4 linked regions of the Homo sapiens genome follow. The protein of the gene in region 4 purifies or fractionates together with the protein of the main gene of each other region. This does not show direct contact. Each region holds a gene or a part of one and is shown on either strand. Other genes may lie near its edges. The genes, in order: RNPEP, AKAP12, HPRT1 and CASP9.

Evidence for each region.
Region 1: the proteins of CASP9 (region 4) and RNPEP purify together in Homo sapiens (affinity purification with mass spectrometry; one large-scale study listed by BioGRID and IntAct). This does not show direct contact.
Region 2: the proteins of CASP9 (region 4) and AKAP12 purify together in Homo sapiens (affinity purification with mass spectrometry; one large-scale study listed by BioGRID and IntAct). This does not show direct contact.
Region 3: the proteins of CASP9 (region 4) and HPRT1 purify together in Homo sapiens (affinity purification with mass spectrometry; one large-scale study listed by BioGRID and IntAct). This does not show direct contact.

The regions. Positions count from the first base shown.
Region 1 is NC_000001.11:201,985,126-201,992,973, reverse strand, and holds part of RNPEP (aminopeptidase B), read right to left. Parts: intron 4,071-7,848; coding exon 3,930-4,070; intron 3,592-3,929; coding exon 3,443-3,591; intron 1-3,442. UniProt on the Homo sapiens protein: Exopeptidase which selectively removes arginine and/or lysine residues from the N-terminus of several peptide substrates including Arg(0)-Leu-enkephalin, Arg(0)-Met-enkephalin and Arg(-1)-Lys(0)-somatostatin-14.
Region 2 is NC_000006.12:151,242,435-151,250,282, forward strand, and holds part of AKAP12 (A-kinase anchor protein 12), read left to right. Parts: intron 1-7,848. UniProt on the Homo sapiens protein: Anchoring protein that mediates the subcellular compartmentation of protein kinase A (PKA) and protein kinase C (PKC).
Region 3 is NC_000023.11:134,456,876-134,465,358, reverse strand, and holds the start of HPRT1 (hypoxanthine-guanine phosphoribosyltransferase), read right to left. Parts: upstream 5,195-8,483; 5' UTR 5,048-5,194; coding exon 5,021-5,047; intron 1-5,020. UniProt on the Homo sapiens protein: Converts guanine to guanosine monophosphate, and hypoxanthine to inosine monophosphate. Transfers the 5-phosphoribosyl group from 5-phosphoribosylpyrophosphate onto the purine.
Region 4 is NC_000001.11:15,498,754-15,506,601, forward strand, and holds part of CASP9 (caspase-9 isoform alpha precursor), read right to left. Parts: intron 7,327-7,848; coding exon 7,237-7,326; intron 6,006-7,236; coding exon 5,858-6,005; intron 1-5,857. UniProt on the Homo sapiens protein: Involved in the activation cascade of caspases responsible for apoptosis execution. Binding of caspase-9 to Apaf-1 leads to activation of the protease which then cleaves and activates effector caspases caspase-3 (CASP3) or caspase-7 (CASP7).

The sequences.
Region 1 (7,848 bases), about 190 Mb from region 4:
TAAAGGGAGTGAGATGGAAAGGTAAATAAGAGGACTGTTGAACAACCTTGAAAGCACACCTGCAGTTGAAGACTGTACATCTGTTACATTTTTCTGGAAAACCCCACACATGTCTATTTCAACTTTCCTTTAATTCCAACTTTTCACGAAGAATTGAGAAAGGTGTAGTGGTTATTACTGTGTAGTTTCACTATTTTCTACATCTCCCAAATACCCACTTATAGAAGTAGAGAAAAGGAATTGTATAACAAGGGACTGGGACATTATAGCAGCGGGAAGTGGGCAAGGGGCTTTGGGGTGTTGGTAAGAGGTAACCAACCACACACTTGGGCCAGGGAGGGAAGCCCAGTCAGGAGGGTCTTGACTGCCCAGGAGAAATGAGTGGCTTGCCGGAAGGGAGGCTGCCATGAGCTCAAGGAGGAGACATGGTGGAATATAGTGGGAGAGAGGCCGTCAGAGAGCTGGAAGGTTAGCAGAGTCAGGATGAATGAGGACAAGGGGCTCAAGGGCCTTAAAAGTTCAGATATGGTACAGTTCATGACAATGACGATGTCTAGGCTCTAGACTCCAGAGCATGGGTGTGAATATGGGTGGCTGACAGAGTGGAGAAGGCTCCCTGAGTAGAGGTCAAGAAACCCTGAAGGTTGGTGTTGTGGCTCATGCCTGCAATCCCAACACTTTGGGAGGCCGAGGTGGGAGGATCTCTTGAGCCCAGGAGTTCAAGATCAGCCTGGACAACATAGCAAGACCTTGCTCCTGCAGAAAATAAATAAAATTAACTGGGCATGGTGACAGAGTAGCTGTGGTCCCAGCTACTCTGGAGACTGAAGTGGGAGGACTGCTTGAGCCTGGTAGCTTGAGGTTCAATGGGCTGTTATTGTGCCACTGCATTCCAGCCTGGGCAAGAGAGCGAGGCAAGAAAAGAAAGAAAGAGGGAGGGAGGGAGGGAGGGAGAAAGGCACAAGAAACCCTGCAGCCACCCTCAACCCTGGGTGTTAGGAGAGAAAAGTCGCCAAAGATGATGTGACAGGAAACCAGACAGAAAAAGATCATGGGACGGCAGTCAGTATCTTCAAGGAATTACTTTGTGAATTGTTCTACCACCACCTTGGATGTCAAAATTACCACAGTCCTTCAGCCCAGTGGACTTCAGCTTGTTACAACTAGAAGGTTTAAGACAGTCATCCAAGATACCTCCACCAGGACACACATTTCTGTCAAAATAAATCAGGATGCTCTCAGTCAAGCTGCAATCTCACTACCTGTAGTATATTGCAAAGAGCACTGGATTTGCAATGGAAATACCTGAATTTTAATTCCAGTTTTGCCAACTAGTGGTCCTGCACAAGCCACTCACCACAGCCTTGGTTTGCTTATTTTTAAAATGTAGAAAGTATCATCCTCATGGAGTCTGTGTAAGGATTAGAAGAGATTATACATAAAAGGGCCTACTGGGATATACCCATAATTCCCCTCTGCCCAGGATTTTCCTCTTGCAGTAACAGGGACTGGGATAGGTGGCATACCTTGCCAGAAGACCCTCCGATTTAATAAACCCCCACGGCCCGGCGTGGTGGCTCATGCCTGTAATCGAGCACTTTGGGAGGCCGAGGTGGATGGATCACGAGGTCAGGAGTTCAAGACTAGCCTGGCCAACATAGTGAAACCCTGTCTCTATTAAAAATATGAAAATTAGCCAGAAATGGTGGCACACACCTGTAGTCCCAGCTACTTGGGAGGCTGAGGCAGGAGAATCACTTGAACCCAGGAGGCGGAGGTTGTGGTGAGCCAAGATCGCGCCACTGCACTCCAGCCTGGGCAACAGAGCAAGACGCCATCTCAAAAATAATAAATAAATAACCCCCCACAAGACCCTACGATGTGACCCAGGAGGCAAGAACTGTCCATTTAATCACGGAAGGAATAAGGCATTACCACCAGTTAAGTGGATTCTGTCACCTAGTTCGATATACCATGTTGTCATTTTATTACAGGCAGTATAAAAAGAAATCATTATCACTCAGTATCTTTAGAATCTATTGTTCTCTCATTTCCCATTAATAGTTCATACTCTTACAAGTAGAACCTTAGTAAGGGTATTCTTGGAAACGACGTTCCTTTACTTATCTACTTGCTTGTCTATTGCAAAGATGACATCCTTTTGGTTATTTCCCGCCCTGCCTATTAGGAAGACAGCCCTTCGTAAGAGGAGGGCACTTTGTCTTTCCAGACTGGTATTGTTTTGAATGTGTGCGCTGGGAGCAGATGCCAATGGAATCCCATTTATTATTCCAACTGATAACCAGAAACTAAGACTCATGATACCAGCAGTGCCACTGAGCCCAGTTATGAAGTCTGAGGCTCGTAACTAATGTTGTCAAGGACACCACTGCCTCTAGGAACTGGGAGCAGGGCCAGAGATAAAGAACAGCAACAGTGCCAGGAAAAGGTCACGGCTTCACCGTCCAGCCTGTGATGCTCCCACATTGGGACTAAGCTATGGTGGAGGTAATATGAGAGCCAGGAAAAACCTATACTCCTGGTCAAACCTCTTTTATCAGGAAACCTTACAAAATCCCTTTTTATCTTCACAAGATCCATGTAACTTCACGGAGGCATTGCTCTCACCGTAGGCTTAGACTCATGCATCTGCTGCAGATAGGAAGGAGAGTCCACTTCCCTCTTCGAGGGAAATGATACCAAAGTTGTTATTTCCAGGAACTACGTGCAAAAGAAAATGGGGAAGATTTGGTACAAAGATAGGAAAGTGGATATAGCTGCTAGAAGGGCATTTAGAACTTAAAGATATTAATAAAGATCCATTTCCCAGGCCGGGCATGATGGCTCATGCCTGTAATCCCAGCACTTTGGGAGGCCAAGGCGGGTGAATCACCTGAGGTCAGGAGTTCAAGAGCAGCCTGGCCAACATGGTGAAACCCCGTCTCTACGAAAAATACAAAAATTAGCCGAGCGTGGTGGGGCATGCCTGCAGTCCCAGTTACTTGGGAGGCTGGGGCAGGAGAATCGCTTGAACCCAGGAGGCAGAGGTTGCAGTGAGCCAAGATCGCACCATTGCACTCCAGTCCAGCCTGGGCAACACAGCAAGACTCCATCTCAAAAAAAAAAAAAAATCCATTTCCCAAAACTGCAGCCTAAATTCCAACATCCCTCTGTAAGGCAGCCCAGGACAGCGCTACTGCTAGCAGGGATGATGATCTCATTCCAGGCAGCAGGATTAGAACTGGAGAGAGGGAGTGAGAAAGGCAGGGAGAAAAAGAGCACTTCCTCCAGCTGTGCTCATGCTGCATGAGCTGCAGAAAGGCTCTGGACTCAGACAGAGGATCCAAGACTGCCCAAGAACCCCCCCAGCAGGTCCACTGGTCAGAGTCCTCCTCACCTCTGAGGCCAATCCAACCTTGCCTGTGGGGTCTTTGTCTCCTACCTGGGTCCAACTTCAGCCGAAACCAGATCTCCGATGGCCAAAGCTATCAGATAGGAGGGGATGGGCTGACACATCTGGAAGAAGAACTTATTTGGACCTCTCTTCTCCCAGGTGCTAGCACTCATCACAGCTGTGAAGCCATCTGGGACCTGACAACAGAGAAAGCTTAGGAGATTTTACCTGGAGAGAGTTTCCTTTTGATTAGTTTGAATAAGAGCATGACCGGCCACCTGTGTGTGATGATAATGGCCTGGAGTCTATCTTGGAGAACACAAAGGTTTCAAGAAACTAAATCTGTGCTCAACTGATGGGATTTAGAGGAAGGCTACATACAACTTCAGTAGGTGGAAGAATTTAAAAGTAAGCAATTTTTCAGAAGTACCACTGAATGGATATAATAATTTACCACTGAAACGTGACCTGATTGATAGATCTGAAATCATTTCTTCATCCCAAGGGCAGGTGCACCTAACCTTAGTCTCCTTACCTCAATAAGAGCTGAATACTTGTATTTAACAGCAGGCGTGTCGAAGCAAGGGAAGAAGGCCCGGTTTAGGACAGCCTGGCCCTGGGTGTACACGAAGGGCTTCTTCTTTCCTGCTGTCTGCTCGGGAGCCAACCAGCAAACCTAAGCGAAAAGAAGAACATTTCAGAACTGACATCTCCCACACGAGCTCAGTCTGGCCAGAGAAGTGAGCTGGCTGGAATGAGAGAATTTTAGGTAATCCTTAAAACCTTTCCGCCAGCCAGTCTGGTTTGAACTAGAAAGCTCTCTCCTCTGTGTATTTAGTTCATCCTGGAATCCATGCCAAAGTATGACATCCACTTCACAGGGCAGAGCCACCAGAAAGGGTCCATTCCTCACTGCATCCCATGGGTCATCTCAGAGACCTTGGACCGAGCCTCTGATCTTGTCATCTGTACCCTATCTGTGTCCTTTTCACTGTAGTAGTTTCTCATCAAACAAAAAACTACTGAAGCAACTGCATTTGGACTTGTGATAAGACACAGAAAAGCAGAACTCAACTGGGAGTCAGTGATTAATATGTTTTTTTTTTTTTTTTTTTTTTTTTTGAGACAGAGTATCGCTCTGTCGCCCAGGCTGGAGTACAGTGGTGCAATCTCGGCTCACTGCAACCTCGACCTCCCAGGTTCAAGCAATTCTCATGCCTCAGCCTCCCAAGTAGCTGGGACCACAGGCGCGTGCACCACCAAGTCCAGCTAATTTTTGTATTGTAAAGATAGGGTTTCACCATGTTGGCCAGGCTGGTCTCCAACTCCTGGCCTCAAGCAACCCGCCCACCTCAGTCTCCCAAAGTGCTGGGAATACAGGCATAAGCCATCATGCTCAGCCTAATATACATTCTCTTTTCTTTTCTTTTTTTTTTTTCGAGATAGAGTTTCACTCTTGTCGCCCAGGCTGGAGTGCAATGGTGTGATCTCAGCTCACTGCAGTCTCCGCCTCCTGGGTTCAAGCGAGTCTCCTGCCTCAGCCTCCCAAGTAGCTGGGATTATAGGCATGCACCACCACATCCGACTAATTTTGTATTTTTAGTAGAGACGGGGTTTCATCATGTTGGTCAGGCTGGTCTTGAACTCCTGACCTCAGGTGATCTGCCCGCCTCAGCTTCCCAAAGTGCTGGGATTACAGGCATGAGCCACTGCACCTGGCCTAATATGTGTTTTCTGTTCCTAAAATTTACCTTTTCAGAAGAAAGGTATTTTATATAATAGGCACTGGTTATATGATTCTTTATCTGTGTTCTGTTAGCTCTTAAACAAAGGGCAAATCTGGGTTGGGTGCAGTGGCTCACGCCTGTAATCCCAGCACTTTGGGAGTCCGACGCAGGTGGATCACTTGAGGTCAGGCGTTCGTGACCTGCCTGGATAACATGGTAAAACCCTGTTGCTACTAAAAATACAAAAATTAGCCGGGTGTGATGGCATGCACCTGTAATTCTAGCTACTCAGGAGGCTGAGGCAGGAGAATTGCTTGAACCCAGGAGGCAGATGTTGCAGTGAGCTGAGATCATGCCACTGCACTCCAGCCTGGGTGACAGAGCGAGACTCTGCCTCAAAAAAAAAAAAAAAAAAAAAAAAAAAGTAAAATCTGAATGATTTATCACAAAACCCAGTTTTTGCCTATAGCAAACAGCCATTCATTTACCTGGAAGAGGGGCAGGATGGAGCATAGGTCAGTAACAAATAGCATTTAGAATTTAGAAATGGATTCGATTACTCCAGGATGATTTCATAGGGGAAGAAAACTTTCTGGCTGGACCTTCAAAGACACGCAGGATTGAGATGGCTGGAAAGGAAGGGAGGAGACATTCACAAGGAGACGAGCAGCAACATGAGGAGAGGCATAAACAGATGCAGGCTCCAGATGCAGAGTTGGGGAGGCAGGCCTGGGCAAGTCTAATGAAGGGTTCTGAACACAGCAGTGTCTGAGACCTATTTTAAGAGGCATAAGGAAGCTACGTTGGGATGCTGGGTTTGAGTTTTTGTGTGTGAAAAATTTAATTAGTCTCCTTATAACAGGTACAGTGCAGTATAGAAAGGGATGAGAGAATAACTTCACAGTGGAGAAAGCTGATAATCACTGCTTCAGCCAGGGGACCGAGGTTAACGCTGACAGTCATAAATCATGTGGATACTATGCGCCCTCAATACCTGATGAAAATGGCACTTTGGCTGGGCGCAGTGGCTCACACCTGTAATCCCAGCACTTTGGGAGGCCGAGGCTGGTGGATCACCTGAGGTCGGGAGTTCAAGACCAGCCTGGCCAACACAGTGAAACCCTGTGTCTACTAAAAATACAAAAATTAACCAGGGTGGTGGCATATGCCTATAGTCCCAGCTACTTCGGAGGCTGAGGGAGGAGAATCGCTTGAACCAGGGAGGCGGAGGTTGCAGTGAGCCGAGATCACACCACTGCAGTCCAGCCTGGGTAACAAGAGTGAAACTCCATTTCAAGAAAAAAAAAAAAAAAAAAGAAAGAAAATGGCACTTTACCTCTGTGAATTGCCCCTCAAAACCCATAATCCCAATCTAATCATGAGAAAACATCAGATAAATTCCAATACAGGGTCATCCTACGCTATACCTGGCCAACACTCCTCAAAACTGTCAAGGTTGGCTGGGCTCAGTGGCTCACACCTGTAATGCCAGCACTTCGGGAGGTCAAGGCAGGAGGATCGCTTGAGGCCAGGAGTTTGAGACCAGCCTGGGCAACATAGGGGGACCCTGTCTCTACAGAAAAAATAAAAATAAAAAAATAAAAAACAAAAAACTGGCTGGGAGCAGTGGCTCATGCCTGTAATTCTAGCACTTTCTTTGGGAGGCCAAGATGGGAGAATTGTTTGTTTGAGCCCAAGCGTTTGAGACAAGCCTGGATAACACAGTGAGACCTCATCTCTACAAATAATAAATTCAAAAAATTAGCTGGGCGCAGTTGTATGCGCCTGTAGTCCCAGCTACTTGGGCTGAGGCAGGAGGATCACTTGAACCAGGGGGATCAAGGCTGCAGTGAGCCATGATTGTGCCACTCACTGCACTACGGCCTGGATGACAGAGCAAGACCCTGTCTCAAAAAACAAACAAACTGTCAAAGTTATATCAAAAACAAGGAAAGTTTGAGAAACTGTCACAGTCCCAAGAGGATACATGACAGCTAAATATAATGTGGAATTCTGGATGGCTTCCTGGAACAGAAAAAGACATTAAGTAAAAACTAAGGGAATCTGAAAAAACTATGGACTCCAGTATCGGTACTGGTTTATTAATTATAACAAATATATTATTATACTAATGTAAAATGATTCAATCTTGGTTAATAATATATCAGCATTGTTTAATTGTAACAAATGTGTCATACTAATGCAAAATGGTAGCAAGAGGGGAATCTGTGTGTATATGTGTATGTAGGAGGTACTGAACTGTATATGGGAACTCTCTGAACTGGCTGCTCAATTAAGCCAGGCATGTTGGCTCATGCTTGTAGTCCCAGCACTTTGGGATGCCAAAGCGGGCAGATGGCTTGAACCCAGGAGTTCAAGACCAGCGTGGGCAACATGGCAAAACCCCATCTCTACAAAAAATAACAAAAATTAGCCAAGTGTGGAGGTGGCAGGTCTGTGGTTGGTCCCAGCTACCCCAGCTACTCAGGAGGCTAAGGTGGGAGGATCACTTGAGCCAGGGAGGTCAAGGCTGCAGTGAGCTGAGATGGTGCCACTATACCAGTCAATAAGAATTGATCAATTGACTGATCATTGAATGCCATCAGTCAGTGATGTTTTTACTGATCAGCTAGGAAATGAGTATTTTTTTTTTTTTTTTTTAGATGGAGCCTCGCTGTGTCACCCAGGCTGGAATGCAATGGCATGATCTCAGCTCACTGCAACCTC
Region 2 (7,848 bases), on a different chromosome or scaffold from region 4:
AAATGACATCCAGAATATCATTGAACTTGTTGGCATAATGCCCAGTTATCAATTTGGAGACAAATCAGTGCACTTACATGTATCCTTGGAATGTATTTAGTTTTCATTTGAACTAGCCAAATTTATCACTCAGGCTTTGAACACAAATGTCTTTTCAAAAGGACTCCCCAATTAAGAATGACTCAGCACCATGGCCCTTGCCTCCCCTCTTCTTGTTAAGCTCCAATTCCTGACCTCCAAGTAATCCCATCTCCCACTCTAGGCTCCGTGGCACCATGGACCCGTCCCAGCAGTTTTCACATGTGTGGGTTTAGTGTTCTTGCTGTTGTGAATACTTCGCAGGGGCAGGGAACACGCCTGGTTGTGCCGACCAACGGTGTTCCTTCATGCGTGCCATGTTGCCTGGCACAGAGGCAGCTCTCAGGAATACTTGTGGAAAGAGGAAGGGGTGATATTGGCTCCTTGGTTTTGATTGGAAAATATCAAGTTGGAGAATACCTTGACCTATCTGATTTTACTACAATTTAACCCTTGATCATTTCATTATCACGTGAGACTGATTATGATAGTGACTAAGGCAAGTCAGTCTGTTCGGTTATTAATAGATCAAGTGAATAGTTTGACCAAAAACTTCAGATTTGGGGGCTTTGGATTCTGTTTCTCTAGATATAGAGTGACTTGTTAGCATTGCAATTTCAAATTGCGTTTTATCTTAAATAGACAAATATATGAAGTGCATATGGCTCAAATGAGTCCATTTCATACCCTGAGTTACTTAGGATTACATCTTGAACTTCCTTGATGTGTCTGTGGACGGTTGGGGAGGTTTAGGCTAATACATCATTTTTCCCTCCTTGGATAGAATGTGGTCATTAATTAAAGGTTGTAGGCAGATCTTTTTCTATCTAATAGCTGACATTTATATCACATGCATGCTATCTATTTAGCAATTGGATTTACTTTCCTTTTTTTCTGCTAGTTTTAGTTACCAGTTATTCACTAAGTGCCCTTATCTGAACAGACATTACACTGGTTGAATTATCACTTGTATTAGGTCAAATGGAGAGTTAAACAAGCTTTTGATTACTCAGGCTTAACGTTTAGATGCACTAAAGCAGAAGTCTTGGTTTTATCTATGGTTCATTTCTGTAAAATGGAAGGAGTCTTTATCTTCTATTCAATCTTTTGTAATCTTTATTTTTTCCGTTAGATCCAGAGATAGACTGGAAATCTTTTACAGTCTTTATATGTAAGATCCAGGCGGGGGCAGGGGGAATGGCTTGGTCTGTTATCTGCCAGGGTTTAATTTTGAGACATGGCCGTTTCACAACTGCAGGGTGCGGGAAGATTAGATGACCTGAATGCTGGTGGTAAGTAAAGCCTCACACTTCACATTATTCCTTAATTGTCTGTTTTTAAAAATTTGTCTTAAAAAAATATTAAGGTGGCAACATATTCAGGTGGCAACAGAGGGTGGGGTGACCAGTGACAAACTGACTTCCATGTCTCTGGCTAATCTTGATTTCTGGAGCCAGGCTCCAGACTAAGTCTGGACAATCAATTAATTAGCCTTTCTATATGTATTGCCTGATGAATGATTTCAATGCTGGACATTGAACAATGGTCTGTTGCAACAGGGTGAGGCCATTGTCTCTGGCAGGTGGGGAGATGGGGGCTCTTGTTAGCTCCATTTGATTACAAGAGCCTTGAATCACCAAAACATAAAGATGTACTCGAATAGAAGAGTCCGTTGTCTGACTGGTAAATTTAAGGATGTGTTTGACCCTCGTGCATTAAAACAGACAATTGGCCGGGTGCGGTGGCTCACGCCTGTAATCCCAGCACTTTGGGAGGCTGAGGCAGGCAGATCACAAAGTCAGGAGATCCAGACCATCCTGGCTAACACGGTGAAACCCCATCTCTACTAAAAATACAAAAAATTAGCCAGGCGTGGTGGCGGGCGCCTGTAGTCCCAGCCACTCGGGAGGCTGGGACAGGAGAATGGCGTGAACTCGGGAAGCGGAGTTTGCAATGAGCCGAGTTGGCGCCACTGCACTCCAATCTGGGCAACAGAGCGAGACTCTGTCTCAAAGAAACAAACAAACAAACAAACAAAACCAGACAATTGAGGCGGCCAGCTGCATTTCATAATTCCTCCCATAAGCTTCCTCCTATTTGCCACTTGTTTAGCAATGGAAATGGAGAACGAAGATGGCCTCAAAGTGACTACATCACCAGTGTTACAAAAATGGGCCAGAATTTAAGGCAAGAATTATATGTTTCTTAATAGAGGGATGTTTCTCTGTGTGTGGCTACTTGTATTCCTGTGGATTTTTACCAGATTATAAGAGCTGCTAATTTCTGATCAGAACAGAGACCAAAAATTGGAGATATGGATGTGGGGATGATTCTTTTGGGTACCGATAGACTGCAGGAATCGCAGGGCTTCCTTTAAATCCATTACAGCTTATAGGCTAGTGGATGAATAAGATAAGTGGAGATTTTCTCTTGAAATATTTCCTTCTATGAAGAAAAGGCCTTGAAATGTGCATCCTCTTTGGGTTGACTAATTTCTATGCCTTTACAGCTTTAAGCTGACATTATAAGATTATTCTAGTTTGGATCTTGTAAGATAATTAACAAAATGGAAATAAAATGTTTTGTTTTTAAAAATGCTAATAAATTATTTATTTTCCTTTGTCTTAGTTAGTTTTAATACATATTCAGTGCTTAAAGAACACCAGTGCAGGAAAACTCAAACTAAATGGCATCATCCCCCATCTCTATAATTCTATATGCAGTAGCCATTCATGCGAAGTTAGAAATTAGAATTTATAGCACTAAGCATTCTAAGAAAAATTAAGCCAGTACGTTTATCTCTTGAAAAAAAAAAAAGCAACTAAATTTCCTTGAACCGAATTCTTTTTTTTGGCTCACTGCAACCTTTGCCTCCCAGGTTCAAGCGATTCTCCTGCCTCAGCTTTCCGAGTCGCTGGGATTACAGGCACCCACCACCACGCCCAGCTAAGTTTCTGTATTTTTAGTAGAGATGGGGTTTCACCATGTTGGCCAGGCTGGTCTCAAACTCCTGACCTCGTGATCCACCCGGCTAAGGCAGGAGAATGGCGTGAACCCGGGAGGTGGAGCTTGCAGGGAGCCGAGATGGCACCACTGCAGTCACCACTGCAGTCCAGCCTGGGCGACAGAGAGAGACTCCGTCTCAAAAAAAAAAAAAAAAAAAATCAAAAGCATGTGTTTACCCTTATTAATGATTTTTATTTAAAGTCATTGCATAGCAATATTCATTTAATGTTTATTTTTTAAAAAAATTAATGATTGAGAACTTAAATTTATAAGTAGGGTAAATTACTCACAAATTTAAGTAAAATTTGAAGCCAATATGATGGCTTCTTACATATTCTTTCGAAAACTTCATGCACATGAAAGTAGATAAAAATGGCACAGTCTTTTCCATTTAAGAAAAAGATCATATCACATATAGATTTAGGTTTTGGATGTCTTTTCATATCAGGACATAAATAACTGCCCCCATTCTTATTAATTTGGGTGCATAAATTTCCCTTTTGTGGGTTGAAGCCCTGTAACGATTTAACCAATTCCTTGGGTTTATATTTAGATTGTCCTCGTCCATAAGTGTAATTGCTGAATTGCAAGCTTTATATGCATTTAAAAATTTAACCCGGCAAGGTGCGGTGGCTCACGCCTGTAATCCCAGCACTTTGGGAGGCCGAGGCAGGTGAATCACAAGGTCAGGAGTTCGAGACCAGCCTGGCCAACATGGCGAAACCTCGTCTCTACTAAAAACACAAAAAATTAGCTGGGTGTGGTGGCAGGTGCCTGTAATCCCAGCTACTTGGGAAGCTGAGGCAGGAGAATCTCTTGAACCTGGGAGGGGGAGGTTGCAGTGAGCTGAGATCTCACCACTGCATTCCAGCCTGGGTGACAGTGCAAGACTCCGTCTCAAAAACAAAAACAAAAACAAAAACAAAAAATTTAACCCTTCCTAAATTGACTTTCCAAAGAGGTTCTACCACTTTGCAGTTCCACCGTGGAGATCAGCACTCGTTTTCCCATGCTTTGCCTTCATGGGTATCAGATTTTCCAATACTTGCCAATGTGCTAGGTGAAGAATGGTACCTCAGTTTCCTTGGTGCATTTTTAACTGTGAAGTTGAATGCCTCATCATGTTTCTCTGCCATGTGCTTGCCATCTGATCATGCACTGGTCTGGCTGTCAGAGCATGAAAGGCTATGGTTTGTTTCACTGTTAATTAATTTTCATTTTCATTTTCATTTAACTTTAATTTTATTTATTTATTGTTTTTGAGATAGGCTCTCATTCTGTTGCCCAGTGTGGAATGCAGTGGTGCAATCTTGGTTTACTGCAGCCTCGACCTCCTGGGCTCAAATGACCCTCCTACTTCAGCCTCCTGAGTAGCTGGGACTACAGGCACACACCACCAGGTAGCTGGGACTACAAGTGCACACCACCATGCCTGGCTAATTTTGTTTATTTTTGGTAGAGACAAGGTCTCACTGTGTTGCCCAGGCTGGTCTGGACCTCCTGGACTGAAGTGATCCTCCCACCTCTGCCTCCCAAAGTGCTGAGATTACAGGTGTGAGCCCCCATGCCCTGCCCAATTAATTTTTAAAGATTTTTTTTTCTAGCCAGGTGTGGGGGCTCACACCTGTAATCTCAGCACTTTGAGAGGCCAAGAAGGGAGGATCACTTGAGAGAAAGTTCAAGAGTGGCCTGGGCAACATAGCAAGACCCCATCTCTACAAAAAATAAAAAATTTAGCTGGGTGCGGTGACGTGTACCTGTAGTCCTAGCTACTTGGAAGGCTGAGGTGAGAGGATTGCTTCCACCCAGGAGTATGAGGCTGCAGTGAGCTATGATCATGCTACTGCACTACAGCCTGGGTGGCAGAGCAAGACCCTATCTCTATTTAAAAAAACAAAACAAAACAAAAAAACAAAAAAACTTTTTCCCCAGAAATTAATCAAATTGGAAAAAAGCAAGTTCAAGAATAAAAACGCAGCTGAGGTAGAGCAGTCTTACTCTCCTTTGCTCCTTTTCCTTTCCAAATTAATGAACCATCTTTAAATTTATTTGCTTGGAGGATGACCTACTTCTTTAGCTATCACTTTTAAAATTTCTTCTCTTGGAACAATCTAAAATCATTTAGTTGCCAGAAATTACTTTGTGGTCATGATCCGTGAAATGTTGAGATCAGGGATTGGAAGCAGCAGAAATCCACCTCTTGGGAAAACAATAGAGTGAAGGCTTACCCGGGATCCTCTCCCGTTCTCACGGCAAACAGCCTGGCTCTGTTAACTGGATGGTATACATGGATTTTCTGAGAAAAATGTAGGTGTTCAAAGCACAGGAAACCATCTGGGACACCGGGACACCATTAGGCACCTCTTAATACAAGTATTCATTTCAGGTTCAAAGCTTTTTGTCTTCCCTGTGATTTCTCTGTGATGTTTTTTAAATGGGGGAAACCCTGTAGTTTCTCTCTGCCTAATCTTAATCCCAGTTGTAGTAGCATGTCAGTTTCATGTTTGATTTCAAAACGAAATAAACCAAAATTTAAGAAGGAGAGATTACTGCAGTTTATTGGCTGACCATCTATTTGTTATATGCAAATACTGCAAACTGGGAGTATTGAAGGATTAAATTTTTCCTAATTCCCAAACCTGGTGGTGCTATTGAATCACCTAGAGAGCTTTTCAAAGACACCCCTACACCTCATCCTGGATTTATTGAATTAGAATCCCAGGCAATCTCAGGGTCTGGGATTCTGTGATTTTTTTTTTTTTTTTTGAGAGACAGGGTCTCACTGTGTTTCCCAGGCTAGTCTTGAACTCCCGGACTCAGGCCATCCTTTGGCCTCAGCCTCCTGAGTAACTGAGACTACCAGCTCCTGCCACTGTGCTGGGATTCTGTAGTCTTAAAATGCTCATCAGATATTCTAATGTGTGGGGTGTGGGCTCCATTACCTTAAGGGAGGGGAAGGAGTAGGCGTAAGAGCTGAATAAGGGCCAGGGAGAGGTTCAGGTCTAGGTGACACTGGGTGATAGCATGTGCAGATTTCACTGAGATTGGAACTTGTGTGGGTGAGAGGGACGGTTTCACATGATGAAAGAGTAGCATTTTCCTTCACACATCTGGAGGATAAAATAAAGGAAAATATTTCTTCCACATAATTTCATTCCTTTGTTTGACTATATTAAAAAGTGGGTTGCTGGCCGGGCATGGTGGCTCACGCCTGTAATCCCAGCACTTTGGGAGGCCGAGGCGGGCGGATCACGAGGTCAGCAGTTCAAGACCAGCCTGGCCAACATGGTGAAACCCCATCTCTATTAAAAATACAAAAATTAGCCAGTATGGTGGTGTGTACCTGTAATCCCAGCTACTCGGGAGGCTGAGGCAGGAGAATCGCTTGAACCTAGGAGGTGGAGGTTGCAGTGAGCCGAGACCGCATCATTGCACTCCAGCCTGGGCGACAGAGCAAGACTCTGTCTCAAAAAAAAAAAAGTGGATTGCTAACGGAGGCTTTTTAAAATAGATTGTGCCATTCAAGGTAAGTAGGTGTTCAGTGAAATGCCCGTATCCCTACTGAGCCAGAAGCTGTGACTTTTCGGTGTTCCCCTTCCATCTCATTGCCTCCTAAGCCCTCTTCCCTTATTTATCATTTTAAAACTTCCCTTGTGCTGAATAAGTAGACAGTAGCTAAGGGCTTAGTTTATGGCATTTGACTGGTCCAAAAATCTGTAAAGAAATTTTAAAACCTACCAAGTTGTTGAAGAATAGAGTTCTGGCTTTCTCAGCCACTTACTATTCAATCTTGATTTCATAAATATTTCTGTTTTAATTTCTTCCATTTATTTTTTAATATAATAGAGACAAGGTCTCACTGTGTTGCCAAGGCTGGTCTCGAACTCCTGAGCTCAAGTGATCCTCTTGCCTTGGCCTCCCAAAGTGCTGGGTTACAGGGTGAGCCACCTACGCCTGGCCATTTCATAAATACTTCTTTACTAGCTTCTGTACTCCAGGAACTGTGCTAGGAACTGGGGAAACAGAAGTTCAGTTCTAAAAAAGTTAAAGTTCTCTCTTTCATATATTTAGATCTTTATTCCACTAGCTACTGATGATGTCTAGAAGGAGAAATCTTAAATTCATTTTTATATGGGTTACCTATTGCTCCAGTACCATTGATTAAAAAGTTACCTCTTGTTAAAACTCAAGTTTCCATATATGCATAAACCTGTTTATTGATTTCCTTTTACTTTTAAATTTTTTCTGCTGTGTCTATTTGTGCAATAAACTGAAAGCATTGTGGGAGTGGCTAAACATCTGATCAATTATAATAGCAAGCCCATGGTTTAAAATAGTTTTATATTCTACATCTCAAGTGTTACCCTTGTCTCTTTCATGGCTATGGTGAGTTCATACATACATAAATACCAACATGTGGCTCGTGGGCATGGTGGCTCACACCTGGTGGGCATGGTGGCTCATGCCTATAATCCCAGCACTTCGGGAGGTGAGGGTGGGAGGATCACTTGAGCCTAGGAGTTCAAGATCAGCCTAGGCAGCATAGTGAGACCCCACTGCTACAAAAAATTTAAAAATTAGCCGGGTGTGGTGGCACATGCCTGTAATTCCAGCTAGTTGGGAGGCTGAGGTGGGAAGATCACTAGAGCCCGGGAAGTTGAAGCTGCAGAGACCCTGTCTCAAAAAAATAAATAAATAGGCTGGGCGTTGTGGCTCACGCGTGTAATCCCAGCATTTGGGAGGCTGAGGCAGGTGGATCATTTG
Region 3 (8,483 bases), on a different chromosome or scaffold from region 4:
AAATCTCTAATTACAAAGCTATATTATCTAAAATTACAGTAAGCAAGAAAATTAATCCAAGCTAAGACAATACTTGCAACATCAATTCATCATCTGTGACAAGGACTGCTTAAGTCTCTTTGTGGTTAAAAAGGAAAAAAAAAAAAAAGACATGTTGGCCAGATGCGGTGGCTCACACCTGTAATCCCAGCACTTTGGGAGGCTGAGGTGGGCGGATCACCCCTGGCCTGCCCAACATGGTGAAACCCCGTCTCTACTAAAAACACAAAAATTAGCTGGGCGTGGTGGCGGGCGCCTGTAATTCCAGCTACTCGGGAGGCTGAGGCAGGAGAATTGCTAGAACCCAGGAGGCAGAGATTGCAGTGAGCTGAGATTGCACCATTGCACTACAGTCTGGGCAACAAAAGTGAAACTCCATCTTAAAAAAAAAAAGACAATGTTCGTGGGTCCAAACAAGACTTAATGGAAGTGAGTCTAAAAATGAGCTATGTGGGCCAGGCGTAGTGGCTCCCACCTGTAATCCCAGCACTTTGGGAGGCCGAAGCAGGCAGATCATGAGGTCAGGAGATGGAGACCATCCTGGCCAACACGGTGAAATCCTGTCTCTACAAAAATTAGCTGGGCGTGGTGGTGCCTGCCTGTAATCCCAGCTACTCAGAAGGCTCAGGCAGGAGAATCGCTTGAACCAGGGAGTCGGTGGCTAGAGTGAGCCGAGATTGCATCACTGCACTCCTGCCTGGTGACAGAGCAAGACTCCATCTCAAAAAAAACAAACAAAAATAAAAGATAAAAATGAGCTATGTGAATTAAAAGAGGTATAACAATAGATAAACCATATTTTATTTAATTCCTAGTAATGAGTAATATTTCCAAACTTCTGGAATGGGCAGAAATTGCTAGTTGGCATATTTTTACCTTTTATATTCAGATACATTAAAATTCTCAAAAAAAAACACCTCAAAGCAGATGATCCGCCATCTCCTTGGATAATTTGTGTTAACTCAGGATAACAGAAAACCAAAATTATGAGTTACTGATGCAATATTCCTAAATGTAAAAATAATTAAAGCTAATAGTAGATTCATCTTCCAATTTCATATCAGTCTTACAAATAAACTACATATATAACTTGCTTGCCTTCCCTTCTGAGGGATAAAGCTGTTAGAAGAATTAAAATCAGCATTCTTGACTATTCAACCAAGGGAGGGATAAATTATTACTCATTCTAGGGACATGGGCTCATAACTACTACATGTGTAAGGACATGAATTTACCCAATATTACAATTTTTCCTTTTATTAGTGTGTACAGTGGAAGAATAGACATGTTCACTCTGGACAAAAAAAAAATTATACTTATCAGTTATCAGAAGCACAATGCTGAAGACAGTAGTTCCATAACAATTTGAAGTATGTGATCGAACTAGTAGATTATCTTAGTAGTAGTGAATTATTGTAAATGTTAGTAATTTGGCAGCCACTGGGCAGAAAAATAAGAATTGAGGCTCAATATTGATATTAATGGTGGTGATTGACACATAAATTTTATCAAGTCTACACAATATAAAATTACAGAAAGGTAGAAGAGTATACCAGTACAACTTCAACATATCTTCACTACAAGGGAGTAAAATGACATGGCCTAGTTACTATCTAATGAACTGCAGAAAACTAAAAGAAAACTCCAAGGCAACTCTTCTCTGCTGATCTGGTTGGTCCTTTTCCTACCTTTTGCAATACCCAGATACAAACAATGGATAGAAAACAAAGTAGACTTGTAGTATGCAGGTCACAGTGCTAAATTCACAGAAAGAAACCCCTGAACTGAACTGCTCTATTTCCTGGTGGTCACAAAGAGTAATTCTGGTTTACACCTACAGATTGATGTCAATCTACACCCTGTTGATAACAGTGTGGCCAAGGACAAAAAAAAGGTGCTCCGTTTTACCAATTCTGTAAAAAATTATTGGCAGGGTAAGCTCGGCTAGGGCAGGATTACATTTCTAGGACTACCATCCCCGAAATTTAGAAGATATTATATCCACATAAAGCATATCTTTCACATTAATTTGCAAAAATCTAAAAGCTTTTTCTTAGCTCAAGTGTGTCCAAGTTTACCCTGGCAGTTTAAAACGATAGTTACAAGCAGCATGGGTTGTATCAGACACATTTGAGGGCCAATTTCATGTAAGTGATATTGGGCAAGTTACTTCAACTATCTGTGCCTCCAAGGTCATACTAGTGTTTATTTACCTAAAGGGTACCTGTTATGTAACTTTAGGGTGTTTACATTAGATAATGCCTGCAAAATATTTACTTCAACGCCTAAAACATAGTTAAGTATTCAATAAATACCTACTATTGTCACTACTAACTTAAAAGTTTAGAGATTAAGAGCAGAATCTGGGGTGAGACAAACTTAGGTTCAAATCCTAGTATTGTTGGGTAATCTTGGGCAAGTTACTTAACCTCTCTGATTTGTGTAATTTAAAAAATTAGTTAATATACATAACAGGGCTTAGAAGAGTATCTAGCACATAGCACCATTTAAGCATTTGTTATTGCTAACATGCAAACAATTTAAGGGAAAGAAATTTTTTAAAAAGGAAGAGGGATTTGCAAACTAAAAACAATGAGTATCTTATGTTCAAAGAAAACTAACAAACAGCCAGCTCTAGCAATAATTAAATTCACTATATACTGGGGCAGGCATCACACCCCAAAGCTAAAAGCGTCTACCTAGGCCAGGCACGGTGGCTCATGCCTGTAATCCCAGCACTTTGGGAAGCAGAGGCGGGCAGATCGCTTGAGCTCAGGAGTTCAAGACCAGCCTGGACAACATGGCAAAACACCATCTCTACAAAAAATACAAATATTAGGCCGGGCGCAGTGGCTCACGCCTGTAATCCCAGCACTTTGGGAGGCCAAGGCGGGTGGATCACCTGAGATCAGGAGTTCGAGAGTAGCCTGGCCAACATGGTGAAACCTCGTCTCTATTAAAAATACAAAAAATTAGCCAGGCATGGTGGCAGGCGCCTGTAATCCCAGCTACTCAGGGGGATGAGGTAGGAGAATCGCTTGAACCCGGGAGGCAGAGGTTGCACTGAGCCGAGATCATGCCACTGTACTCCAGCCCGGGCAACAAGAGCGAAACTCCATCTCAAAAAATAAATAAATAAATAAATAAAATAAAGTACAAATATTAGCCAGGGATGGTGGTGCGCACCTGTAGTCCCAGCTACTTGGGAGGCTGAAGTGGGAGAATCCCCTGAGCCTGGGGAGAATCACCCGAGCCCGGGAAGTCGAGGCTGCAGTGAGCAGTGATTGTGCCACTGCACTCCATCCTAGGTGACAGAGTGAGACCCTGTCTCAAAAAAAAGAAATTGGCAGAATTAAGTAAGTTGATGTTTAGAGATGAAAAATCAACATTTTTTCCTCAGCAACTGAATAAAAACAACAGCCACTACCATTTTTTTGAGTACCTATTTGTAGCCTATTTTTTAACTGGTATTACTCGAGAGAGAGAGAGCTAGGTTCGAGACAGAGCTCCTTCTCTTAATAACTGTATGACCTAGGGTATGTCTGTTAGCCTCTCTGAGGCTTCAAAGGTTCCTCATCTGTAAAATGGTAATAATCATACCATTGCTACAGGGCTGTTTTGAAGACTAATTAGGACTATGTAAGTAAACATGATGATGGCTATTATTACTGTTCCCCGCCAGGGGCCATGCAAGGGTTGCTGATTCACATAGACTGTCTTATAATCCTCTCAATAACTCCAAGAGGTAGCCAGCACCTCAGATATACATAAAATGACTTAAGCCCAGAGAGGTGAAGTAAGTTGCCCACAGCCACACAACTAGTAAATAGCCCAAACAAGCTGGATTCCCAGTTAGACTCCGTTAATAGCACTGCTCTTTACCTTAAGTCATTACAATGCCTAATATGAAATAGAATCGCTTCTTTCTTAGGGTTCAAGTGGTTAATTATTTAATGTATTCATTCAACAAACCATCATCGAGGACCTCTTACAAGCCAAGTACTGTGCTAAGTGCTAGAGTTACGGCGGTGATTCCTGCCCTTAAAAAGTTTTAGTGGGAGAAACAACAGGTAACCAGGTCATTGCCAAAACAACAAAAATAATCATAATAAAGCAGGCTAAAGCATATTTAACTGGCCGGGGTTTTGACTATTTTAGCAAGCATGATCAGAACGGTTGAGGAGGGAGGCCAGCAGCTTGGCCGGTTCAACAAACAAGAAAAAACCAGTGAGGGTGGAGCTAAGATACCAGAGGCTGATTACGGTTAAGAATGTTCTTGAAGGTAAGGACCAGATTCTCATTTTCTATATCCTGGGGCATCGGTCAGCATGGAATCTGGATTCTAGCACATGTGAATTTCGGCTTGAAATGACCTAATGCCTTTTCCCTAGTTCCTTCGTGTGTCAAATACGCATGGTTACCGCTACCAGAGCTGTAGTGGGGCTTCAATGAGGCCATGAGCATCTCCATAAAGATGAACTACAGTGTGTGCAAAACTAAAGGCAAAACCTGGTCCCCACACGCCCTCCCAGGTGGTCGCTTTCCGTGCCGAGGCCCCTCCAGAGGTGCCCCGAGAACCTCACCATCGCACCCCAAACTTCCAGGGAAGGGCCTCTCCCGAGAAAGCCCCCACGCCCCCACCCCGCGCCATCATTCCCGAATCTGCCCTCGGCCCCTCCCCGCAGCACGCTCGCAGGCGGCACATGTCAACCAAAACGCCATTTCCACCTTCTCTTCCCACACGCAGTCCTCTTTTCCCAGGGCTCCCCCGAGGAGGGACCCACCCCAAACCCCGCCATTCCGTCCTCCCTGCCGCCCTCGCGTGACGTAAAGCCGAACCCGGGAAACTGGCCGCCCCCGCCTGCGGGGTTCCCTGGGCCCGGCCGCCCGAGCCCGCACTGCGGATCCCGCGCCTCAGGGCCCGGCCGCCACCTGCCGCGTGGGCCTGAACCGGCCAGGGCCGGCAGGCCGAGCTGCTCACCACGACGCCAGGGCTGCGGGTCGCCATAACGGAGCCGGCCGGCGCGCGGGCTGACTGCTCAGGAGGAGGAAGCCGGTGGCGGAGCAGAGGAGGAGGCGGAGGCGCAGCAAGAGGCGGCGCCGCGCGGGAAAGCCGAGAGGTTCGCCTGAGGGCTCGTCGCAGCCGCCTGAAGCTGAGGAGAAGCAGGCCCCGCCCTCTGCCCGCCCCGCCACGCCCCGCAGGCCCCGCCCCCGGCCCCGCCCGCGCGCCTACGCCGGCGCCTACCAGTTTGCAGGCTCACTAGGTAGCCGTGGGAATTTTCTCCCAGAAGAAGCCGAGGCTCCCCCAGCGAAGCCCCTTTCCCTCCCAACTCAGTCTCCTATTCAGAGGGCTCCCTGATTCCCAAACCTACCGGCGCGCGTTGCTTCATGGCGGCCGTAAACCGGGCCCCGGCTCTTCGGGTTCCAGTCATCGCGTGAATCCTTGGACCAGACGTCCCATTCCCAAGACCTTGCACTACCTGTGGCTTCCATTTTCCTGACTCTTGGCCCAGTGCTTCCCCAAACCCTTAACTGGTTGTAACAGTTGAGACCTAGAGTCCTAGAGTCACCCAGATCAGGGTACACATCTGAGAGGACACTTAACTGCTCTGTAGTTTTGTACAAATCAGACTCTGAGCCTCTATTTTTGCCTCACTAAAATGAGCATATTAGCCCGGCGCGGTGGCTCATGCCTGTAATCCCAGCACTTTGGGAGGCCGAGGCAGGTGGATCACTCAAGGTCAGGAGTACGAGACCAGCCTGGCCAACATGGCGAAACCCCATCTCTACTAAAAATACAAAAATTAGCTGGGCGTGGAGGCGGGCGCCTGTAATCCCAGCTAGTCCGGAGGCTGAGGCAGGAGAATCACTTGAACCCGGGAGGCGGAGGTCGCACTGAGCTGAGATCGCACCACTGCACTTCAGCCTCCGCGACAGAATGAGACTCCGTCTCAAAAATAAATAAAAATAAAAATAAATAAAAATTTAAAAATAAAATGAGCATATTAACAATACATAAACAGGATCATTTTGAGTATTAGAGGAGTATAGGTATGCGTGTGTGTATGTATATATATATGCACTTAGGACAGTACAGTCAGCAAATGGGAACTACTGTTATTACTACTGATCTTTATTTTTGCCCACACAAGTTCTTATATTGAATCTGAAAACAAAAATATGTTCCCCTGCTAATTAATTCTCAGATAGGTCAGGTAAGCAAGCAACAGTTGCTCCAGCAACACCATTTCTTATATACTCAACCCTATAGCTCCAGCATCCACCACAGTGCCCAGCACATAGTTGGTGGCCTCCCTCTTATTAAGGACGCTGAGGGGTATGTGATGGCAGGAGATTTGTAAAACTAGGCAAGTCATTGAGCTTCTCTGGACCTCAGTCTCTTCATCTAAAAAATGAGAATAATAAACCTGGGTAACATGGTGAGACTCAGTCTCTACAAAAATGAAAAATTATCTGGGCCTGGTGGCCATGTGCCTGTAGCCCCAGCTACTTGGGAGGCTGAGGTGGGAGGATGGCTTGAGCCCAGGAGGTCCAGGCTGCAGTGAGCCAAGACTGTGCCACTGCACTCCAGCCTGGGCAACAGAGAAATATCCTGTCTCAAGAAAAAAGAAAAAGAGAGAGAGAGAGAATAATAACTACTGCCATGAAGAGTTTTACGAGAATTCTAAAAATCATTTATGTAAAGTACCTCATATAGTATTTGCCACATAATAGGTGCTCAAGAAACAGTAGCTGTTATAATTTTAGCATGTATGAATTTGTGAAGTCCATACTTCCCTACTTTCCCTGTCTTCCCTCTTTATCCTGGAGAGGCAGCAGGCTGTAATGGAAAAGGGATGTATGGGCTTTGGACTGAGTTCAAATCCTGGGTTCCCCACTATTATAGCATTTTGACTTTGGGCAAGATCCTTGGTCCCTGCGTGCTTGGTTTCTTATACGTCAAATGAGGTTAATATCTCTGTCACAGAGTGTGGTGAAGATTAAACAAAATAATATATGCAAAAGTGCCTAGCATAGAGCTTGGCTCAATACATGATGATACCAATGTTACGTGTTCCATAATAATTTTGCCTTAAACAGTTCACTTTCTTCTAGCCTCTAAGACTTTTTTTTTTTTTTTTGAGACAGAGTCTCGCTCTGCTGCTCTGCTGGAGTGCAGTTGAATGATCTCAGCTCACTGCAACCTCTGCCTCCCGGGTTCAAGCAATTCTCCTGCCTCAGCTTCCCGAGTAGCTGGGACTACAGGCGTGTGACACCAGACCTGGCTAATGTTTGTATTTTTAGTAGAAAATGGGGTTTCACCATGTTGGCCAGGCTGGTCTTGAACTCCTGACCCCAGGTGATCCGCCCATTTTGGCTTCCCAAAGTGGTGAGATTACAGATGTGAGCCACCACGCCCAGCCTGCCTCTAAGACTTCTTATCCATTCCCCTGTTGATGGACATTTGGGCAGTTTCCAGGTTTGGGCTATTAGAAATAATGCTACTATGAACATTTTGTACATATCTTTTGGTGAATATATGAATGCATTTCTATTTGGCATAGAACTTGAAATTCATATTAGAACATTTTCATTACTTATCCTTTTAACAAACATTGTGTTCTATCAGGAAGTTAATTCAGAGAACTTCCGGTTATATATTCGTCCCCTGACACATGTGGTCTCAGCTACTCAAATTTGTTTCTAAATTAGGTACCCAACAATTCAGAATCCTTCCAGCTTGCCTCTGGCTTGCAGTTCCTTTCTCCAAATCCTGCAGTACCAGATACTCCTGTATTTTAATAGTGGATTTGAAACAAATAATGATAGCCAGATGATTGTAAAAACAAAGAAACAGTACTGTTCTTTCAATCTTGTCATTCTGTGTGACAATTTGGACTTTTTATTTGTATTTAAAATGGAAAACAGCAAACACTGCAATCTGCAAGATGTAAGACTTTTTCTTGGTAAGTGAAAATCTGGTTCACATATGAAATGGTTTACTGAATTTCCACATTATATTTAAAGTGGAAATGTATTCTTCTAAAATATTGTTTTCCCACTACAGACAAAAGCAAGAAAATAATTATTCCTAATTATTATATGATTATTATTGAAAATGATTTTGTCATAGAGGTGAAAAATGTTAAAAAATTATCTACTCTGGACGTCCTATATGCTAGGTATGTCACTGTTCTTTACTGGAATATCTGCATGCAGGAAGAAATAAGGAAAGCATGAGTGTAACCTAAGATTCCTCTTCCCGATGCCTTTCCAGAAACAATTTTTTTTTTTTTGAGATGGAGTCTTGCTCTGTCACCCAGGCTGGAGTCCAGCGGTGTGATCTCAGCTCACTGCAACCTCTGCCTTCCAGGTTCAAGCAATTCTCCTTTCTCAGCCTCCCGAATAGCTGGGACTACAGTTGCACGCCACCACACCCGGCT
Region 4 (7,848 bases):
TTTTTTTTTTTTTTGAGACAGAGTCTCGCTCTGTCATCCAGGCTGGAATGCAGTGGCGCGATGGCTCACTGCAAGCTTCGCCTCCTGGGTTCAAGCGATTCTCCTGTCTCAGCCTCCCAAGTAGCTGGGACTACAGGCGTGTGCCACCACACCTGGCTAATTATTTGTAGAGATGGGGCTTCACTGTGTTAGCCAGGATGGTCTTGATCTCCTGACCTCGTGATCTGCCCGCCTCAGCCTCCCAAAGTGCTGGGATGACAGGCGTGAGCCACCGCCCCTGGCCAATGATCTTATTTCCAATGGCGGCTGGAAAGCGTAAAAAATGCGCAGGCCACCTCTAGCAAGTAGCTATCAGTATTCCATTTTATGTAATTAGGCAACTGAGACTGAGATAAGTTAAGGGGTTTCCCCCCAGACAGAGGCTGACTGGGACTTTGACCTACCTCATTTTTGAGTCTACTATTACCAATGGCTGGGATTTTTCCATGTTTCTTTACATCTGCAAAGTGATTTTATCTCTAAAATCAGTCGTTGTATACCTTAAATTTTTAATTCACTTGTACATTAGAGAACTGTAGAAAGCTGCAGGACATCCTAGGATGTATTTTTGGAATCCAAACTTTTACTTTTCTTCTCTCCTTGTGTTCCCTCTCTATTTTGTCCTAGTGTTATCATTTGTACTTCTTGCACTATGGCAAATCCTTTTCTAGAATCAAAGAAGCCATCAGAAAAATACCAAATAGACACCAAGTCATGGATAATGAAATCCATGGAGATGTTTACACCTTCTAATCCAGTAATTTCCTAAGAAAATAATTCAAATGCAGTCAAAAGCTTTCTATATGAAGACACCTGTGGTTGTGTGAGCCAAAAATTAGATATCACCTAAATGGCCGACATTAGGAAAATGGTTTAGTAAATTAGTGCATGTCATGAAAATGGCCCATTATAAAGCCATTTGAGCTAGTGATGATGAAGGCCATGGAGATCTGGGGAACTGCTTAAGGGATAACGTTAGCTGAGAAAAGCAGACTGTGCTCATGGGCTGGAATCCAAAAGGAAGATGCAAAAATGAGATGGCTGTATTAGCTTATAACATTCTGAATTATTTTCTTTTTTAGGTTGCCATATTTTTTGTCTTTTCCATTTTAAAATCTAGACTCCCCAAAGGCAGTGCCAAGCTTGGAAAACAGAGAGGTCCTGGCAGGACTTGTGCCCCACATGGCTCAGCTACAGAGCTACTGAAGTGGAGACACTGACGGAGGTCTTCCGGGATGAGGTCTTCTGCAGTAGGGCTCATGGTGGGTGGGGTAAGGCGGAGCACAGAGGGCTACTCAGGAAAGAAGGCATCTAACAAGAGCTTTGGTTAAAAAATATAAATATATATTTAACTATGTATACATACTGCAGAAAAAAAAAGAGAAATTTTTTTAAAAATAGGCTGAAGTTGGAGTAGGAGTGATCCAGAGGGTCCCCTGCAAAAACACTCCTGGAGAATGTGACTGTGATCCAGGCCCTGATGCCATCAGGGAGAACGGTCCTGGTGAGAGAGACAGCAAGTGCTGTGGCCGCAACGCAGGCAGGTTTGCATGGCTGGATCTATGTGACTGAGGGAAGTCACAGTTCACCCAGAGGAGCTGGGGGCCCATCTGGCAGGAACAGAGGTGGCTCTGGCAACCCCATAATAGTAACACCAAAATCTATTGACCTCTTACCCCACACAGCTAAAGCTCAGAAACCACTGGTCATTGGCATTCTCCCAGCTGATATGAGGGGCGCGGAATTCTGCCCCATGTTTTTTGCCTCTCAACTATCCCACTGCTTCTCACGGAGGCCCCCAGCCTCCAAAGGGGGGCCTCTTTGATCTGTGACAGCCATGTTTTTCTCCAGATTTTGTGGTTCATTGCTTCTGGTTGTTTTCTTGGTAGAGACTCCGGAATCTGCCCCAGGTGTCTGGGAATGACGTGAAACAGCACAGCAAGGAGGCCTGAGGCGTGAATGTGATGGTGCTGGGTCTGCCTGGCAGCCTGTGGGGGCGGAGGGATGCCTAAGTGGGGGATGCCGTTAAGAATGGCCAGAAGAGACAGGGTGAGCAGAGAGGCTGAGAAGAGACAGCAGATCAGAGCAGGGGGTGTGGGGGAAAGGAAAGAGGGGGTCAGGCGGGGCGCTAAGGCAGCTCCGTTCACGTGTCAGCCTCAGCCCACAAATCTGATGTGAAGGCCTTGCCTAGGGTGTTCTGCACTGTATGCATGGCTTGGTTCTTGGAGAGCCTCGGTTCTTAGAGAGCCTCATTAATGCAAAACTCCCCGTAGGGCAGGACTCATTCCCCACAAGAATAAATATACAGTAGGAGGAGATGTTCCCTCCGCACAGAAAATCCACGACCACTGCAGCATATTGTCATTGCTTTCTGTCTTCTCAGCCCGATCTCTCAAATCCCAAAGAGGGGTCACCCCAAAATTGACGGCTCAGCCTCAGAGAGGTGGCTACTTGGTTGCCTATCACGCTGACGTTGCACACCAAAGTTATCGACTTTAATGCACATTTTTCAGCCCTGGTGCTGTTACCTCCTAATGAATGGGTGGATGACATGTTGGAGGGTTTTAAAATTATTATTTAAAAATGATTTTTAAATTATTTATTATTATATTTAAATTAATTATTAAATGATTTTTAAATTAAATATTTTTAAAGTATTATAGTGAGTTATAAAATAGCAATACAAGAGTCCTCAAAACCCAGGACAGGTGTTCTGATGCATGTAAACAGACCCCTCGCCAGGCACTAGTGAAGAACGGGGACCTTTCTATTTCTGCTCTCAGCTGACGTGGCGCCACCATGTGGTAACTGCGTTAAGCACCAGGTCACGCAGCCTGCGGAGGCAAAGCAAGGACCCGACTCCAAAGGGATATCTTAATCACTGCATGCTGGCTTTGAAATCTTGCTGTTTTCTGTGAGTTTTGTTTTAATGATGGAAATCTACATTATGCCAAATTTGGCTCATATTTTTTTTTTATTTTTTATTTTTTTAGAGACAGGTGACAGACTGGCTCTGTCACTCAGGCCGGAGTGCAATAGTGTAAACATGGCTCACTGTAGCCTCGACCTCCAGGGCTCAAGCGATCTTCCTGCCTAAACATCCCAAGTAGCTGGGACCATAGGCACACACCACCAGGCCTGGCTAATGTTTTAAATTTTATGATAGAGACTGGTCTCAAACTCCTCGTCTCAAGAGATCCTCCCACCTTGGCCTCCCAAACTGTTGGGATTACAGGCGTGAACCACCACAGATGCTTTTGTATGGTTCTCCTTTACATTCAAATTAGAATCCACATGAGACGCAACCAGACTGTGGGCTCTGTGCCAGGCTGGGGGCCTGGCTGCAGGGTAGGCCTGGCCCTCCCCTCAGAGCTGACCAGGGGATAAGCCCATCTCAATACAATGAGACAGTGCTATGGTAGGGGAGGGACAGAGGCTGCAGGAGCACAAAGGCCAGCTAACCCTGACTTTGGCCAAGAAAGGGGGTGTTTAGGGAAGTGACAATAAATTGTAACCAGAAGGATGGATGATTAAGAGTCAGCCAGGTGCCAGGCACGGTGGCTCATGCCTGTTATCCCAGCACTTTGGGAGGCGGAGGTGGGAGTATCACTTGAACCCAACAGTTCAAGACTAGCCTGGGCAATATAGTGAGACCCCCATCTCTAAAACAAAATAAGTAAAAATGAATTTTAAAAAAAGAGTTAGCCAGGGGAGCAGGTAGAAGAGCAAGCAAGAGCCTGGACATCCTGGGAAGGCTGGGCCGTGCTGGGGACTCGGAGCATGCCAGGCTGGGGAAGGTGAAGTGGCAGGGGCCAGGTCACCAAAGGCCTTGGAAGCCCTGCTACTGAGTCCTAAGAGTGACAGCAGATATTCACGTGACAAAGGCCCTCCCTGCTGTTGAGACTGAGACTGGATGGGGCATGGGAGGAGCACAAGACTGACTAACTGTCCAGAAAGTAGGTATGCCTGCTCAGCCTGCATTCCTAATTCCCCTGCCCTTTCTGTCTTTCATTTGATTCATAGGAGAAAGAGGGACCGGAGGCTCCGAAGGAAGAGCATTGCTGGACCACACACTGTGGATAAGACAGGAGGTGAGGCAGAGCAGGGTTTCTACAGCCCCGAGAGTGGCAGCCTTCCTCACTTCCTGTTACTGTTGTCCTGAGGGAACTCTGCTGGCGACAGCGGGGTGGGGGACTCTTATGTGACACTGGGTCCTCCGGGGTGGGAGCGGGGGGCAGGCTGGGTTTTCAGTTATTAAAATGAACCAATCACTGTACACACACCAATTAGTGCATTAAATATTATTAAAGTTGCCTGGGCACAGTGGCTCACGCCTGTAATCCCAGCACTTTGGGAGGCCGAAGTGAGCAGATTGCTTGAACCCAGGAGTTCAAGACCAGCCTGGGCAACATGGCAAAACCCTGTCTCTACAAAAAAAAAATAGAAAAATTAGCTGGGCATGGTAGTGTGCACCTGTAGCCCCAGCTACTCAGGAGGCTGAGGTGGGAGGATCACCTGAGCTTGGGAGTGGGTTCTGTTATTTTCCCCATTTGCTGAGCTGTCTAGAGATGAACTGGCCCAGGGCTGTGTGATAGATAGGTCAGTAGCCCATCCAGGGTTAATCAAGTGTTCTCAATCACTTGTGGTCAAGTTATGGGCATGGGTCATGACAGTGACTTAATACAGTTCATGTCAAATTATAAATTCCAGGAGACTGAAACTCTGTTTTTCCCCTATCCCCAGCACCTAACGCACAGCCTGGTATATACAGATGGTGCTCAATAAACACTTACTGGATGAATGATGTGACCAGAGACTGCTCTCCTAGGTAGCCTCCACCCAACTCCACCAACGTGGAATAGGGATGGGGCAGTTGGATGTGCACAGGAGAAATAGACCACAGGTGCCCATGTCACAGCTGGACGAGCTGGACAGCGCTATGGTATAACAGTGCTCACTTCTCTGGCAGATCAGGCTGGAGGCAAGGAACTGATATACCTTCTGAATGTTCCAGTCCGTGGAGAGCCTAGGGCAGAGGGGACTCCCTGGGACAGAATTTCTAGCGCTCCCTGATATTCCTGTCATGACCCACAAACTAGGAACCCCATGTTTGTCTCTCTTCCCTCTTTTTTTATAAGAAAATCAGATAACACTGTAATAGGAGTTAAGTTTAAAATTAGAGCATACAGCAAAACTACAAAGAATCCAAGTAATACATTTAAAAAACAAAACAAAAATAGAGACAGGGTCTCGCTGTGTTGCCCAGGCTGGTCTCGAACTCCTGGCTCAAGCAATCCTCCTGCCTCGGCCTCCCAAAGTGTTGGGCATGAGACACTGCACCCAGCCCAAGTAATCTTTAAATGTTCCTCGAACCCCCACAACTACACTTTTGAAAATTCCAATATTTAAATTCTTTGGTTTCTCCATGCAGTTTAGCTGTGGCCACCCTTTCTCTGGGATAGTGGAAACGGGGTCTAGTTGATGGAGGTCAGGAGAATGGTGACAAGAAAAATAAAAAGAGGTTTCTCCTCTCTCTTCTGCTTTCTTTTTGCCAAGTCTTTGGAATTGAAGCTGCCAAAGTTACTTGAGCCCATGATGCCACTGTGCCATGAAACAGAAGACTCTGACCTCTACAAAGCAGACAGAGCAGGGCCTGCTCCAGCCAGACAGAGGTGCTGCCAAAAAGGGACCATGTGTGGTACCCTCTGACTGCCTGGAGAGACCTCATGGGCCCTGTGAGGGGCAGGCTGGAGAAAGAAGCAGGTGGCGGCTCCCTCCCCACCAGACCCACCCAGAGGGAGGCTGAGGAGCTGCTTACCCCCACCACAGGCCTGGATGAAAAAGAGCTTGGGCTTCCCTCCCAGGCTGGGGCAGCTGGTCCCATTGAAGATGTTCACAATCTTCTCGACCGACACAGGGCATCCATCTGTGCCGTAGACAGCCCCTGGGAACTGCAGGTGGCTGGCCTAGAAGACCAAGAACCCTGGTTACAAAACCAAGAAGTTGGAGTAGGAATCCAACAGCCTGTTCAGAGGTTTTGTGGGAGCCAAGGATTTGGAAGGTCAAAGCCAGGGGCACGAGGCTGATTGAGACAGAGCAGGTTGGTTCTGGAAAGACCCTGGTCAGCATCTGGAAAGACACCTTGACAGCAAGGGGTTGCATGTCAAACTCATGTGCCTCTAGGGGCCAGTGTGCCTGGAGAGTGCTGGCTGCGGCCTCTAGACCAGTGGTTCTCAAAGTTTGGCCCCTGCAGCAGCGGCATCAATATCGCTTGGGAACTTGTAAGAAATGTGATTCCTGGGCCCCACCCAGACCTCCTAATCAGCAGTATGGTCCTCCAGGCCCCTCTGACTGAGGCAGCTCAACGCTGAGAGTGGCTGCTTTAAATCAGTTCAGCTCAGACCTCAAGGGCATGGAAATCACCTGGAAACCTTGTTGCTGGGCGGACTTGGAATGAAGAGGTCCAGGGTAGGGCCTGGGAGTCCACATTCTTCATGAGCTCTAGGGACCATATTATGAGAGAAAGGACCAAAGGGAAAGCCCTGCCCAGCCACAGGCTGGAGTTTTACTGGCTGAAGATGCTGGCCTCGTCAGGCCAGACCTTTGCGGTTTGTCAAGAGAAACTAGAAATCCTGATTTTTATGTGAAATTTGCCAGTTTTCAAAACACCGTGCAGACCACAGGGGGACTCCAGGCCCCAGCTTATAACTGTGATCTGTCCAACTCCTCAACTTAAAAGATGAGGAAACTGAGGCCCAGTAAGGGGTAAGGGCTTAATCACAGTGACAAATACGTAAGGGGCCAAGCCCCCAGTGGGCCTGGTGTCCTGAGTCCCACCAGCAGCAAGGGGCCTGGGGCAGTGCCTCACAGGACAGAGACAGGAGCTGAGACAACATGTGTGCTGTACCCGCCTCTGAACAAACTCTGGGTGCAGGAGCTTCGTGAGCAGACCTGGTCTCTGCCCTCCCTCTCCCAGAGGGCTTCTCCCAGGAACACCGACCTGCCCAGGACGGTGCAGCCAACTCCTCAGAGGACCACATGGCTCCCAAGAAAACAACAGGAGGTGGGCAGGGCCCCACAGCCCTTTTCCACAAAGCCAAGGGTGTTTTGGACACAAGAAGGGACATGGCCCCTGCACAGCCTCTTGGCACGGCCAGTACCCAATGCCTGCCCAGGGAACAGTGGGAGGCTTCCTACCTGACAGCCGTGAGAGAGAATGACCACCACGCAGCAGTCCAGAGCACCGTGGTCCTGCTGCGCCAGCTCCAGCAAAGCCAGCACCATTTTCTACAAGAGAGGGCTGCAGGTGAGCCAGAAGCACGGATAGGTCTAGATGCAGACTGGACCGTTCCTAACAATAAAAGGGCCCAGCCTGGCCAGGCATGGTGGTTCACGCCTGTAATCCCAGCACTTTGGGAGGCCAAGGCAGGTGGATCATTTGAGGTCACGAGTTCGAGACCAGCCTGGCCAACATGGTGAAACCCCGTCTCTACTAAAAATACAAAAAAAAAAATTTAGCCAGGCATGGTGGCACACACCTGTAATCCCAGCTACTCAGGAGGCTGAGGCAGGAGAATTGCTTGAACCTGGGAGGTGGAGGTTGCAGTGAGCCGAGATCGCGCCACTGTACTCCAGCCTGGATGACAGAGTGGGACTCTGTGCCCCCGCCCCCCCCAAAAAATAAAACAACAAAGGGCCCAACCCAAACGCCTGGGCAGAGCACTTTCTCGGTTTCCCAGGGCCAGTACCGAAGTGCTGACAGTCCCAGCAGTCGTAATAGCCACCATTTTTGGGGAGAAGGTGCTACGC